Linked DNA regions of Homo sapiens: region 1 is linked to region 2. A link means that fine-mapping ties the variant in region 2 to the expression of a gene that starts in the linked region. Tissue or cell type: whole blood. Region 2 holds a variant in brackets; the other region holds the start of a gene. All regions are shown on one strand. Distances are between the middles of the regions.

Region 1 (8,192 bases), 22 kb before region 2:
CTTCAAGAAACGTAAAACTTTAAAAACACTCATAAACCAAGAAAAAGATAAAACAGGAGTTACTTGACTTTCCAAATTGTTACAAATTCAGTACATATTAATAAGACTTAAAAAGATAAAACAATTTAATAAATAATAAAATAATGTAATGAATGAACAGATTTGACAGAAATCAATAATTAAAAAGTTTTGAGAGCAAAATCATGAAACTGAAAAGACCCACGGTGGAAAGAAAAAACACAGGTTAATAAAAGAGACTGTATTTATTTAAAAGTAGTAATTTAAAATCTAAGAAATGGGAATAATTATATTCCAACATGAATATGTATATTACTTTCCACAAAAAGAGTAAAAACTTTCCCTCATTAATCAGCACAAAAATCTGATTAGCCAATTTTAATGTTTAAGTTATATATCAGAGTTTAACTGTAAAAGTGATTTGTGAGAGTTCTTACATGTGAAATCACTTCTAGTTCCTTTGTAACCTAAGTTATTTTGAAGGAGAAAAATAAGCCTGTCCTCATTAGTTTATTATGCTAATCAAAATGAACATGAATGTAACAATAACTACAAATTTAACCAACAATTTTCCTTACTTACATTTGCAAAAATCATCAATACAATTTTAGCCATTTGGCTATTTATTTTGGCCACCTGGCCATCACTGGTATGGTTAAATAATGACAGAGCATGGTAAAGTGGAGTTTATTGCAATAATAAAAGGATAATTCCATACTAGAAAACCTATCATTTTCACAAAGTAATTTTAAAGATTAAAAAAATCACATTAATAGACCTTTGAAAAAACATTTTCATATAATTTAAATCTTTAAAAATAATATAAAATCTTTAAAAATCATACCAAATTGTGGGGACTAATTCTTCTTAATCAATAAAATCTCAACAATATATTCAGCAGTTAACAAAAGAACCATTTCCACTAAAGGTAAGGCTGGAAAAAGGAGGCTGGGTGAGGCTGATGCCATTCACCACTGCACATGATGCCTGAGGTGGGACCAAAACAAGAGGGAAAAGGAGAGGGACTACAAAAATGGAGTCAAAGAGCTGCAACTGTAGTTATTCTCAGATGACGTGACTGTAAACTTGAAAAAGTGGAATCAATTCTAATTATCAATACTAATAAGAATATTTAAAAAGTGGGCAAAACTATTATGAATATTCTGAAATCAATATTTCCTGTTTAGCAACATTAGTCCTTAAAAAAAGCAAACACACAAAATCAGTGTCTATTTACAACAGGCAAATATTATGACTACGATTTGAAATAAATTTGTAGACCCATGTAAATAAATTTTAAAACTTAATGAGGATATAAAAATGACATGAATAAAGCCTGAAAATCCTATTATTAGAATGGAGGACATAGTGACATAAAACCTCAGTGACTGTAGACTCAGGGCAACCTAGACTTAAAAGTCCCATGTGGTCTTTTACATGTAAAAAATGAGAATTAGTCTAAAAGTCAATTTTGTCTAAATTTTGATTTTTGGTGAGTATACAGTCAAAATAGTTGTGAAAAGAAAAAAATAAAGTTGTCAAATTTCATGTAACCTATGTTATTTGGAAATTTAAAATAAGTCATATAAATATTTATAACAATATTAAACAATTTCATAAGTGGACTGAATAAAACATAATATTTTATCATATACAATAGCTCCTGCCTTCCTGAGGAAAACATAAAATCAAAGGGCGTGAAGGAAGGATTTTGGTTTCACTGCAGAAACATAATAAGACACCGAAGTGTGTGTTTGTGTGTGCGTACATATAATTAAACTACAGAATATAAAATAGCATCTAATATACATCAAAAATGAGTTTCATAGAAAAATTCATTTTACACATATGTCTATAAAATAATAAAATTTATTCAGCCTCACAATTACTTTGTGAACTGGAAATAACAATGAGTTGTCATTTTATCCAAATCTAAAAAAAAAAAACATACATACAGTATCAAGTTCTGGTTAAAGTAGTAGATGAACTTTATGTGGTACATAAGAGTATCTATACAGTTTGTGGGCTGCATCTTGCTAGAATATATTACATTATAAAATGCACCATTTATTTACTCTGCGATCAAACCCCCAACTTGCCCCAAGTGGAGGAACCCTCAGACATTTGCAGAGCAGTCAGTGTGCTAGTAAGCAGCATTCTTTACAAATCTATGAACATCAAGGTCTCCTTGGAACAGATGTTCTGTGAACAATTTATAAAACTCCCTCCTGTTAGACACTTAGGTTGATTCCATTTTTAAATCAATTACTGAATAAAACACACTCCATCGTGTGGATGAAATGCTACCTTAATTTGTCAAAGCTATCATTTTCTAAACTTTTCTTTTTAATTCAAATCATTAATATTTTGTGGCCAGATCAATACTGATTCATTGTTTTAAGCTTCAAATGCATTATACAGTTGGGCAGAACACATTTCCTCTCATCAATCTTCTTTTCCAGGATTTGTCAGATATTCCTGACATTAATTCACTACTAATATGCACAGTTTCTCTAATCATGGTCAACAAAGATCTGACAGTGCATTGTCCCTAAACGACCCATACTTGCCTCACTGACACCATGTGGCCCACTTCCCATCTATAATCTATGTCTGGGTGTGAAGCCCTTCCCATATGATCCCCCGAATGGAACTTCACAAGTTCGAATTCACTGGGTCACAGTGTGATAGCGTGAAGATGGGAGGACGTTAAGGGAAGGCTATGGGTGAGTTGGGAAATGTGTTAGGCAGGGTCAGAGATTACCACATCCTAAAAACAACACTTAAGGCGGGAGATGACAAAACAATCAATGAATAACATGACTTTTTCCAGTGAAAGTGCCATATCTAATCCTTTTCCATTTTTGTTCTCTGAGCTTCTTTCTTAGGGAAGATCCTTCTTGAGAAGCCCCTGCTGAGTATTAGGAAAATGCATTTCAGGACCTCTCATCAACACACCCTCTTTCTTTACCACAACCACATATATGGGGGCATAACTCAACATGTGTAAAAGACAATCTTCTGCTTTTCACTGAACCTCCAGGAATTCAGGACAATAAACCTCTACATGCAGACCAACAGGTGAGTTTTTCTGCCCCTTCTTTCATAACACCGTTCTTCCCTAGTGAAGTCCACACACATCCTTACATGGCAGCTGTGGGTATATCAACTGGTCTGACCCCTTTTAGTCACAGAGCCTGAAGTCTGCTAGTACCTGCTGAGCACAGTGTCATGGGTGAGAATGGGCAAGGCTTTTTCTTTCTCTGGTTCCTGAACTTCCCAGGCTCTCTCACTTCTGGATCCTGAATACCCAAATCCCAAGCTTCCTTCCCAGAACCAACACCTCCTCCTCATTAGAAAGATACCTTTGTTGTGTGCTTACTTTATAAAGTCTTGCTCTTTCCCTGTCCACTGCCTTGTGTCACTATGTGTGTGTCTTGGGGCCGGTGGAAAGGTGAACAGAAGCCAGTAGAGAGTAACAAGCACCAGCTTCACAGGAATGGCATGACCTTAATACGATAGTGGCAGTTTTCCCTTAACATCCCTGCCCCCTAAAGATTTCAGATCATATGTCACACTCTTAAGTAACAGCGATTTGTCTTTCACGGTTTTAATCATATTGATTAAAAGCATTTGTCTTCTCCAGAACATCACATTAAGTCATCAAAAAATATAAACCTTAAAAAGATGTAATTATTGGAACTGAAAAACATAAAAGGTGAGCTTTGGAAATATCTTTGAGCAGTCTATTCATTATGAACACATGTAATCTGTTGGAACAAAGTTCTAGGACAATCCAGGTCATCCTTCAATATTTGCAGAAAACAGCACAAAGAAAACTTGATACTTAAACTTAGTTGGAAACTTTATGCCACAGCCATTAAATACAGAGATCATATAAAGGAATAGAGGAAGCTGTTGAATACTAAACTAACTCAAATCATCATTATCCTTACGAAGTGCACACTGAATTAATGTAAAAAGCATTTAGTAAACAAAAAGTATTTTCAATATACAATTAAGACTGAAAAGTATTGAGGCCTCATAAGCTGAACCTGACACAATAAATTTAAAAGGGAAACTAATTTGGAAATCAGAAAACCATCTAAAGAATTTGGGAATTAGGCTTCTGCTGCCCTCTCTGCTACTGACGGTCAAGGCCTCCTCATTGTATTCTGTCCTCCATATCTCTGCTGATTCCCATTTTGTCTATTTCCATTTACCCCACTACTACTTGCTCAGGTCACTCTCCTTCATTGTCGGTGTTTGTTCAAATTCCTCAGACCCATCCACTTCCCATCTAAACTTCCCTCCCCTTTTCTCGCTCGTTGGCTCTACCTCCCTCCTCTGTTTTCTCCTCACTCTCCTGCCCCACCTCGACATCCACAGCGAGGCAATGAAGAAGCCCCTGCCAAGGAAGAGCCCGCTTCTCAGTGGGACACCGGGAAGGTAAACACCCAACAGTCACCGCTAGTGGGAGGCGATTGTGCAGAAGCACGAGGGTTGTTACAGGATCGGGCAGGTCCCCTACCCCAGTCTCGGACTCAGGGTCCTGTCTGAGGCGGCCACCCCGAAGCGTGGGGTTTGCGGAGACGTAGGGCCTGGCGGAGGGAAGGATGGGGAAGCATCTCAGGGAGGACTGGCGTCTGCCGAATCCCAGGGCTGCCCTGAGGGGCCAAGAGGGGCGAGGGTGGGGACGATGGAAGACAAGCCACATGCCGAATCGGGACCTGAGGCCGCGCGCGATAGGATGGGCGGACGGTGAAGAGAACTAGGGTGGAAGGGCCGGACAGGGGCGACCTCAGTGACGGAACCGGACACAGACGCAGATCTGGCAGCTGGGCGACAGGCTTCGGAGCATTTCCGGGCGTCGCGGGACTCCCCGCCGACAGGAGGGCGGTTGCCGAGCCTGTGACATCCGCGGAGACCAGCAGACCCCGGGTGTGGAGGACGCCGCAGGAAGGGAACTGCGTGGCTGGGTTTGGCCACAAAAAGCGGAGGGCACTCACCCGAGCGGACCTCGGCTCCGGAGAATCCGTTTCCGGGTCAACAAAAAACGTCGCGCGAGGGGCGGGGCCCGTACGTGCAGGGAGGGGAGGCAGAGAAAAAGGCGGGGCCGGGCCGGGGCGGGGTCTCGGGCAGGGGCGGGGAGCTTACCGACCTCCCGCCCCCGCTGCGCGCGTTTCTGGCCCTGCCAGTGTCTCCGCCGGTTGAAAGCGCGTGTCTGCGTCGGGTTCTGTTGGAGTGCGTTCGGTGTGCCGTGGGTCCGCGCTGCTTCCACCCAACTTCCTGTTAGGTAAGAGGCGCGTGAGGCTCCTGTGCCGGGGGCGGTGCTGCTCCCGAGTCGGCGCGCGGCGGGGACGCGAGTCCGTAGGTGCTGGCGGGAGCGAGAGTCGGGTGGGGACCCTCGCGAGCCCGCACTCCGCCTCTGGGTAGCAGCCTCTTCGGCCCCACACGGCGTGACGCGCGCTCGGGCTCCGCGTTCGCGTCGAGGCAGAGGCGTAGTAGGGGTCGGGCCCAGGGCTGGAGGGGCCGGGACCGGGCGGGGTGCCGCCCTGGACACCGCGCCGGCAGCTGTTCCGCGCGGGTTCATGTCATTCCTATTTTCAACCTGTCCTGCTCCGCACCTGAGATGATTTATAAATTCGGTACCTTTGGGACAGGCGTGGATGACATCCCATAATTTACTTCGTTATTAATTTCTAAATGTAATACATACCACTATCTAAAAGTATTTTTTAATTTGAAATATATTTGTATACGTATACATGTATATTTATTTATTTCTGAATTTTATCTCGTACATATAATGAGGCTCGTAAAGTGGATACTGTTCAGGACATAGGTGGATTTTGCTTTTAAGTAGTAAAGACTTAATTGGTGACTTACTGGGGCTATTTGATAAGGATTTTTTTTTAATGAACATTAAAAACAGTGAAATTGTATTTCCGGATTTCGTTAGCTTCATTTATATCTTAATTGGTGAAAACTGTAAGTTAATAACTCATTTTTATTTCCTTTGGAGATTCTTAAGTTTGTGCTACCAATGATTATTTCCAAAAAAGGCACACTTCTGGTTTTCCCAGAACTAATGCTAGCTTCTCAATCTTTTGAGTTTACTTGATATTAATGTTTGACCTCAAATCATGTCACATTTTTGAAGAAAACTTTCTCTTAGCCAATGGAACATAAACCACCCTGGAGTTCATATAGAGGAGGGGTTCAAATGCCTCTGATAGTGTCGTGTTAAAACTCATGGCCAAACGCAAGGTCACATAGCTTTCTTTCTATGTTTCCCTCTAGAATTTGTATAGTTTTGTCATTATAAAATGGGTCTTGTCCTAGACCCCAAGAACAGGTTTTTGGATTTCACATGGGAAAGACCTTTTGGCAAGTCACAGAGTATAGTGAAGTTAAGATAGTTTATTAGTGACTACTCAGCTACATAGCAGGGCGTCCTCAGAAAGCAAGAGGAGAAATGCACCTGTTGTAAACATATAATTTTTTTTTGAGACAGAGTTTCTCTCCTGTCACAATGGCATGGTCTCGCCTCACTGCGACCTCTGCTTCCTGGGTTCAAGGATTCTCCTGCCTCAGTCTCCCAAGTAGCTGGGATTACAGGTGCGTGCCAATATACCCGGCTAATTTTTTGTGTTTTTGGTAGAGACTGGGCTTCACCATGTTGGTCAGGCTGGTCTGGAACTCCTGGCCTCAAGTGATCTGCCTGCCTCGGCTTCCCAAAGTGCTGGGATAACAGGCATGAGCCACCCGGCGCCCGGGCTTAATGTTTGTTTATATAGGTTATTAAGAATCAGTTTGTGACAGGCTATTAGTATTGTTACTTCTCTTTGTTACTGTCGATTTTAACAACAATTTATGTGTGTACTGTTACCTTTAAAGTAAAACTTATTTTTAAACTAAGAATGCTTTTTGTTCTTAAAGTTCTGGGACATTTAAATAACTTTCATGTCTTTATTAACTTGTTCCCACAATCATAAATATTTTATAACGAAAAGTGCTCAACCCCCGAAATATATAATCCAACAAATTTAACGTGTGTGTGTGTGTGACAGAGAGAGAGAGACAGGGTCTCACTCTGTCGCCCAGGCTGGAGTGCAGTGGTGCGATTATGGCTGGCTCATTGCAGCCTCGAACTCCTGGGCTCAAGCAATCCTCCCGCTTCAGCCTCCTGGGTAGCTGGGACTACAGGTATGTGCAAGCATGCCATCTAATATATATATATATTTTTTGTAGACATAAGGGTCTTGCTATTTGCCCAAGCTGGTCTTCAACTCCTGATCTCAAGTGATCCACCCGCCTTGGCCTTCCAAAGTGCTGGGATTACAGATGTGACCACTGCACCCTGCCCAGATTTAACTTTTTAAAAGCCTTTATTTGAAATAAAGTCACTGTGGTTAAGAGGCCTCTGACGGTTTTGCATTTTAAGTCTGAGGACTATGTTGAGTGACTTTTTGCATAAGTTGTAAAATGTGCATTCATGTTGATTTCATTTCCTATGGTTTCCAATTAATTGTCCCTTCTGCATTTTTAGAAACTCACGGGCTAATGGGCTCTGTGTCAGTTTGCATTTCTAGAATGATGGCGCCGAACACTCCATGCTGTCTTTTAGTTGGTGCAGCAGGAGGGGTAGCAGAGGGCGCTCAGCTTCCGACAGTGCCTTGAGCTCTAGGGCGCTGCAGTGCCCCCGGCCGCCAGCAGAGCACGCGCGAGCCCGGCTTTTCTGAGCCTTGAGGCGGCCGCATCCCGCACGCTTCCTCCGCGCCTGCACCCTGCAAGGGCGGGAGCCGCGTTCTCCTCAGCACATACCAGGAAACGCCCCTCGCTTTGGGACACCTTGAGCCGGCGGCGTCCATGGTTGAGTAAAATCCTTCCTGTTTTCAGCCCTGACTGCTGAGGGGTAGAGACCCTTCATGTGGAAAATTAGAAACCAAAATCCCCTGTGAATCCAGCGCACTCGAGGTTCATTCTCCACACCCAAGGCGAGGCGGCCACAGGGCCAAGCTGCGGTCTTGGAACAGAAATGTAGTGTCAGGAAAGCAACTAGAACACCCGCCACACTGACAATAACCTCTGTAGTGCTAATAACACTGCATCTGTGATGCTAGTGTTAGCACCCGTCGTATGCAGAGAGCACACCCGTCGGGGTAGCTGCC
Region 2 (8,192 bases):
CACACTGACACAGTGGGGGTCAAATTTCTCAAAAAGAAATAAAAATTTTTTTGAGACTGGGTCCGGCTCTGTCGCCCAGGCTGGAGTGCAAATGTGCAATCTCAGCTCACTGCAACCTCTACCCCCTGGGTGCAAGCGATCCTCCCTCTTCAGCCTCCTGATTAGCTGTGACTACAGGCACATGCCATCATGCCCATCTAATTTTTGTATTTTTGGTAGAGATGGGGTTTCACCATGTTGCCCAGGCTGGTCTTGAACTCCTGGCCTCCCAAAGTGCTGCAATTATAGGCATGTGCCACCATGCCCGGCTAAATTATAGTTTTCCATTGAAACATAAAATTTCTCTCTGTAGTAACCATCATTTTTGATCATAATCAAAGTAAGACTATTCTTGTTTTAAAAATAAGTCTAGTTTTGTTAGATTTTGCTTGATTATTTACATAAGTGCAGCAAGAACAGGAGATGACCACATAGGTGCTTTCAAGTTTCTTTGCTGGAAGTTTTCATACAGAATCTCAGATTTGACTTTTAAAGGCCTTATTCAGGCTAAAACCCAAGCCAAGCACATACTATCAAATTTCAGCCGCAGTCCTTATGGCTTTGTGTGAATTCCTCTCTTCTTGAGGCCCCCAAAATATCCCCAAATTCCTGGGCCTACCGGGAAATGACCTTCTTTACTAACCTGAAGGCTGTGAACCCTGTAATCTAGGTATCAGGCTGGCTTTTCTCAGAGTGCTGTTGGGAATGAAGATTTTGGTGTTCCAAAAAAAAAAAAAAAAAAAAAACAACGTGGGAACAAATGATGTCTTAGTGAGGCGAGCTTTACTTTCTGCATAAAGGGTGCTACTCAATAGCTGTCCAGCCACAAGAGCACACCAAACAAAGGAGACAGAGTTACTTATAACCTGATGTGTCTACCCTAGTGCTGTGTCCAGTTTCCACTGGCTGAAATAGGACCTCACATTTTACACTTTACCCGATTGACTATTAGTTTAACACTTTCTTAATTAGGTAAGGGGAATAGAACAAAGAAAGAAAAGGAAGTTGCCCAGGGATAGTTAAGGAAGCATCTCCAAATAAGGAATGGCATGTATTATGGGCTGGGGCTTGTCTAGTTCTGCCCAGGCATGCTGGAGCAAGCTAGGACAACTGATTTGGAATACACACACACACACACACACACACACACACACACACACACACGTATATATAAAAATAGTGGATAGCAATCTCAAAGTAAGAAATTAGCTAGGATGGTCTGGATCTCCTGACCTTGTGATCCATCCTCCTCAGCCTCCCAAAGTGCTGGGATTACAGGCATGAGCCACTGCACCCGGCACAATATTTAAAATAATAATTGGAATTATGACTCATTACTCTATACTGGCACATAGCATGGATAAGGAGGACATAACAAATTTACAGGAATTTTATATCATTTCTGAAAACATAACATTTTACCCATACAAATGTAACACAGGGAAGGTTAGGTATCTCTTTTTATTTGTATCTTATGTATGGTTTTCCTTATAAAAAATACATCCTACTTTACTTGTGAAACATGCCCTACTTTTCTTGCATGCTTTGCATGGGGTTGTTTCTAGTTATTCCATTATTTCTAATCTTTTTATTTACATATACTGATTATAATTTTAATACTTAGTAATCTTTTATTTTCCAGAGAAAACTAGGAAGTAGTCAGTTATAAACTGTCATATATTAGCATTCTATAGTAGGTTAGAAAATGTATGAATATACTGTCTCCCAACATCTAGAGGGATGTATTTCCTCATAATACAATTTCTCAGTGTGGCAGAAAAAAACATGTTTATTAACGGGCCAAAATATCTTTAGTCTTTCTGTAAAAACAGGAAGCCAAAAGTATATAAACTTGAATTATTTATGTTCAGTAATTAATGTTTTAGTATTGTATCTTATTTATAAATGGTCTAGATATTTAATGCAAATCTTTTACTTAGCTTAAGTTTAAGGTTAAAAATTAGCAAAAGTAGTTTGGAAACTACTATTAGGCAGATTTACTGTGAACAAATTATTTTTGAAATAATGTTTTTCGCTTTTCACAAGACGGCACCGAAAGCGAAGGAAGCTCCTGCTCCTCCTAAAGCCGAAGCCAAAGTGAAGGCTTTAAAGGCCAAGAAGGCAGTGTTGAAAGGTGTCCGCAGCCACACGCAAAAAAGAAGATCCGCATGTCACTCACCTTCAGGCGGCCCAAGACACTGCGACTTCGGAGGCAGCCCAGATATCCTCGGAAGAGCACCCCCAGGAGAAACAAGCTTGGCCACTATGCTATCAAGTTTCCGCTGACCACTGAGTGGGCCGGAAGAAGATAGAAGAAAGCAACATGCTTGTGTTCTTCGTGGATGTTAAAGCCAACAAGCACCAGATCAGACAGGCTGTGAAGAAGGTCTATGACAGTGATGTGGCCAAGGTCACCACCCTGATTTTTCCTGATAAAGAGAACAAGGCATATATGTTCGACTGGCTCCTGATTATGAAGCTTTGGATGTTGCAACAAAATTGGGATCATCTAAACTGAGTCCAGCTGGCTAACTCTAAATACATGTGTATCTTTTCACCATAAAAGAATAATGTTTTTCATAAGAGTGACAACTTAATTAGAATCAAATCTATAAGCTTTAAGATTTTACATTTCTGTAAGTATAATATTAGCTTATTTGACTAGAACTCAAGCAGAATAGGAATTTATGTTTGTTTTATATTCAAGTGATAACTTTGAAGACATAGTTTTATTACACCAAAAATTTTATATTAATCTCATTTAAGTAAGTTTTATCCAAATCATGTTAACTTAAAAAACATTTGATCAGTTCCTATATTTCTAGGAGTTTGGTGAATATTTATTTATAAATGGTTATTTTTTTCCAAGCCAAGTTAGAATAGAGCACTTTTATAGGATTTTATAAATGAATTTTGCAGTGCTATCCGGAGTTAAGAAAATATCACATATACATTACATACAGTAATAGATATACAAACACAAATAGAGATTTCATAGCTTTCATCCTGAAATTTCAGCCATGAATCAGGCATAAATATTCTGATGGTTAATTTTAGACATCTACTTGATTGGATTAAGAAACATACATAGCTGGTCAAACAATTTCAGCCATGAAACAGGCATAAATATTCTGATGGTTAATTTTAGACATCTACTTGACTGGATTGAGAGACACACGTAGCTGGTGAAACACAATTTCTGGGCATATCTGTGAAGGTGTTTCTGGAAGACACTGAGATAACCCTGACCCAGTGTGGATGGGCACTGATATGGTTTGCCTGTGTCCCCACCCAGATCTCATCTTGAATTGTAGTTCCTATAATCCGTACATGTCGTGGGAGGGACCCAGTGGGAGGTGATTGAATCATGGTGGTTGTTACTGCCATTCTGTTTTCATGGCAGTGAGTGAGTTCTCATGATCCAATGGTTTCATAAGGGGCTGTTCCCCTTTGGCTCAGCACTTCTTCTTGTTGCTGCCATGTGAAGAAGGACGTCTTTGTTTCCCCTTCTGCCATGATTGTGAGGCCTCTGCAGCCACGTGGAACTGTCAGCCCATTTAACCTCTTTGTTCTTTATAAATTGCTCAGACTCAGGTATTTCTTCACAGCTGTATAAAAATGGATGAATACAGGCACCATCCAATTGGTTGAGAGCCCAGATAGAATAACAAGGAAGAGGAAAGGTGAATTATCTCCTGAAATTGAAACATCCTTCTTCTCCTGCCCTTGACATCAGAATCAGTGTCTCAGAGCTTTGGCCTCAGAATCAGAGTTACACCATTGGCTTCCCTGATTCTGAGTCCTTTATATCTGGAGTGAGTCATGCTGCCAGCTTTCCTGGTTCTCCAACTTGGAGACAGGCTATTGTGTAACTTCTCAGCCTCCATAATTATGTGAACCAATTCCCCTAATGAGTCTTCTCTCATCTATCTACATATATCCTATTGATTCTGCCTTTCTGGAGAACCCTGACTAATGTTATTACAATAATACAAAATTCACTAGTTTATATAGAAGACTTGGTTTTTGTCTTTGCCCCATTTTGTATTTGTATTATAACTGTGTATCTGGAAAATGGAACAAGTTTTTATCTTCTTCATATGAGGGCCAAAGCTTTTTTC[T/G]CACCAATATTTTTGGAGATTTTTAAGATTTTCTTTTGTTTGGACATACAATCTTATGGAGGCTGAGAAATAAAATTTTTTCTATTTTATTTTTCAGCCCCAGATGTTTGCTTTTGCAGATTCTTGAGCACATTGAGAGCATGGAGAGCACTCCAAGGCATGGAGTGGGGTGCCTAAAGTTTCAGTGATTACAGGGAGTTGAGAGACTCAACTGGGAAAGGAAAAGTCTAAAAGGAGGCAATTTGGAAGATAAAAATTTTCTCAAAGGAGCGATTAAATTTCTAAATAATTCTTAGTAAAATCATGTAAACAGGAAAGGAAATAGAATTAGTTCCATATTGGTGGAACACATAGCAGAGGTTTGAGAAGGGAGAATTTAGTCAACTGAGAAGTTCTCATGAAAGGAGCAAGTTCAAGATCACAGAGACACCTTGAAACAAAAAGCCAGGAATAACTTCCAACCCAAGAGGAGAACAGAGAGGCCTCAAAACCAAAGCTAGGATAAGAAACTTGTAGCCCAAGAGTTATCTTCCAGACAAAGAAGCCTGAGATTCCAACGCAGCTTCAGAGAGTGCTCACTCAAAATGTTACTGAAACTGAAGGCTTTTTAATGACTTAGCCATGCCTGCAAAAGGCATTCCCTAAGGTGGCACAGAAGACGGAGCCCCCATATCCAAAGATAGCCAAGGAGAAAGAAAGACCCCTGTTGCCAGAGCCAGTGGGCAAAGGCAACAGAAAAGGAGACAAGGGTCCTAATGGGATGAGATCCTTTCGGATTTAGGCTTTTATACAAACTCCTGAGAACTGGCGGGTTGACAGCCATAAATGGGGTACCAAACTTTCTACTCATTGGATTACAAGTTCTCAGGCATCCAGAATGATGAACAAAATGACAATTTCTAGGGCTTCTGTGGGAGAGTATGGAAAGGTCTTTTTGAACCTTTTAATGCTGTCAACGGAAGAATGATGAGGTTCATAAATTTGGAAAGGAGACATTTCTTCATTTTTATGTTTATTTTTATTTTTTTTGAGACAGAGTTTCACTCTTGTTGCCCAGGCTGGAGTGCAATGGCGTGATCTTGGCTCACTGCAACCTCCACCTCCTGGGTTCAAGCGATTCTCCTGCCTCAGCCTCCTGATTAGCTGGGATTACAGATGCCCACCACCACACCTGGCTAATTTTTTGCAGTTTTAGTAGAGACAGGGTTTCATCATGTTGGCCAGGCTGGTCTGAAACTCATGAGCTCAGGTGATCCACTTGCCTTAGCCTCCCAAAGTGCTGGGATTGCAGGCATGAGCCACCCAACCAGTGAGAGATTTATTTCCTATAAAGGGTTGTAGCCTGCAGGGTTGTCCTTCTGACAGGCTGGGAAGCATAGCCTCCAGCCAGAAGCCAGAAACAGACTCTTCAAGGAGGAGGTAAAGGAAATAGCAATTTATGCTGACTGGAATGGCCAAATACATTTATTTAATAAGCTCCAGGAGGAGTCATGAATATTTATGGAAGGAGAAATGCATGCATGCACAATTGAGTTTCTGGCTTCTTCATGGGTCCCATGTACAAAAAATGGCAGTGTTAGCATGATCCCAGGGTGGAGTTTTCAGCCCTCTGACATTAAAAGGTGAAGCAGAGGACATGAAAACTCGCTCTGTGCATCCTCTGTACGCTGGCCAGAACCTCTCTGTTGTGGGTGGTCTCTTATCAGGCAAGAAAGGAGAGGTTGATATCGGTAGTGGAGGCTTTGAAAGGGCTGGTTTCTGTTAAATCCTTAGGGAAGAAAGCCTCATCATGGTTAGCAAAGGAGTGGGTTTAACGATGTGTATGTTAACCCCATCATCCCATCCTAGCAAAGCTGAGAACTCAGTTTTGAAAGTTACTCTGTGGTCCCCTCAGCCAAGAGTGGTTCTGTTCAGTCAGTTGGGAGCTTATAATTTAATTTTTGTTTATCAATGCTAATGCGAAAGAGTACGCTGTCTTCATGGCAGCTGAATTTGCAAGAAACTCCTTGGATGGGGTTAATGGCAGCTGTATTTTTCTGGGAGCTCTGCTTTAATTGGACAAAGTAAGTTGTGGTAAGATTTCTTCTTTTATCTTCAGTATCTCAAATGTTTTCATTTAAATAATCTTTATAACAACTTTTGATGTCTGAGTGGATTCCCATACAGTCATCTATTGTAAGACTTTCTGATTCCGTTTTTTTCCTTTGGTCATTATGAATAGGGCTTATGTAAATAATTGCATGGTAGCTTTTGATTGGAAATAACATCAAAGTAGTTGTCAAAATACTTAGGAATGTTATTTTTGGATTGTAAGGTGAGACTTGTTTAGCTTTGGAAAAAAATGCCCAACTTGTAATAGGGGAGGAAAAATAATTTTCTGTTTTCGGAATTCTTAGATGGGATGCTCTGTAAAAACTGACAGATTAAAATGAGAAAAACAGAAAAGTTGAAAAACACGTATACCTTATGGTTACATGGGAGATATTCAGGGAAAAATGAGTAAATCTCCAACAGGTGGCTTTCAATTCAAGCATAAATACTGTCTTCAACTTAAAGAAAGAAGATTTGAGGTGCAGTATTGGGGAGTTAACCAGCAAAAGCACATTAGACAAGGGTAAGGTTCATTATACAGACTTAAGTCCATGCATTCTCCATTGATAAGACTCTTTAGTGATTTAGTTATCCTTCTCTTCTTGGTGTCGAGAGAGGTAGCTTTTAAATGGTGATTTCCTTTATAGATGTAAATTTTCCTTACACAAGTGTAACTTCTCTGTTTTCACAACTTCCTTTGTTAGCATTTTTTTTTTTCAAAATAATTAGCTTGGAATAATTCTTAAGCCAAAGGGACATATTTTGGGGTTGCATATTCTGGTTTCCTACCATTATATTTTGGGGTGGCATATTTTGGTCTTATACACTGTGTTCCACCGGCAATGAAAAGAGTTCTTGTTTTTCCTCCAGCAATTTGTCATTTGTTAAAGAGTTTAGCAGTTCTAAGAGATATAGACCAGCTGTGCTATCTTTTTGTGGTTTTCAGTTCTCTAGTATGTTGAGCATCTTTTTGTAAGTGTACTTGCCATCTGTAGATCTTCTTTGGTGAGGCGTCTGTTCAGATCTGTGTGCATTTTTAATTGGGCTGTTTAACTTATTGTTTAGTTTTAACAATTTTTTATGTATTTTGAATACAAATTCTCAGATCTGTATTTTGCAAATATTTTCTTCAATATGTGGCTTGTCTTTTGGTTCTCTTAACAAGGTCTCTTCCAGAGTATAAACTGTAAATATTAAGAAATCCACATTGTCATTTCTTCTGTGTATATCAACCTTCTGTGTCATTTGTTAAAATTCATCACCAAACGCAAAGGCACATAGCTTTTCTTCTATAGTTTCTTCTAGAAATTGTATAGTTTTGCATTTTTAGTGTAAGGATGATTTTGAGTGGTTATTTGTGTAAGTTGTAAAGTTTTCATCTACATGCATATGATTTCTTATGGTTTCCAATTAATCATTCCCTCACTATTTTTGGGAAAGACACAGGATAGTGGGCTCTGTTAGAGTAGATAGCTAGCTAGACGTGAACAGGAGGGGGAGCTCCTGGAAAAGGGAAAGTCTGTGAAGGCTCACCTGGAGGGACCACCAAAAATGCACATATTAGTAGCATCTCCAGTGCTGGAGTGGATGGGCACTTGTCAATTGTGCTTAGGAGGGAGAAGAGGTACCTACACAGAAACACCCTAGAACTTCTCTTAAGATGCCCCAATCATCATTCACTGCAATAAAAATGTCAGAATATTGCTAGCTACATGCTGATAAGAAGGACAAAGGGGACATTCCTAAGAGAAACCTGGCACCATAAGTACAGATTAGGGCAGAGAAAGACATTCAAAAGAGGCAGGTGCAGTAGATACAAACGTGACTGCTGTCAGCCTGCCTGGGATGGCGGGAAGGAGGTTGGTGCCAGAGTGGATTCAGATTCATCACCCCACGTGTACCTCAATCAACAGGAGGTCCCACAAGCCTAAGTGGGGCAAG

The links. PIP is the estimated chance that this variant, and not a neighbour inherited with it, causes the effect.
Region 1: it holds the start of ZNF596, and the variant in region 2 is fine-mapped to the expression of ZNF596 in whole blood (INTERVAL, PIP above 0.99).

What each region holds. Positions count from the first base shown.
Region 1 is chr8:229,251-237,442 of GRCh38, reverse strand. ZNF596 (zinc finger protein 596) reads right to left here and starts at 4,987. Exons shown (of 6, transcript NM_001042416.3): 1 at 4,749-4,987. It also overlaps the pseudogene RPL23AP53. RefSeq lists an enhancer at 4,781-5,100 and a silencer at 5,121-5,220.
Region 2 is chr8:207,604-215,795 of GRCh38, reverse strand. It overlaps the pseudogene RPL23AP53. Among named protein-coding and RNA genes, the nearest start is that of ZNF596, 21 kb to the left of the region's middle. The variant T/G (reference allele first, on the strand shown) is at 4,161.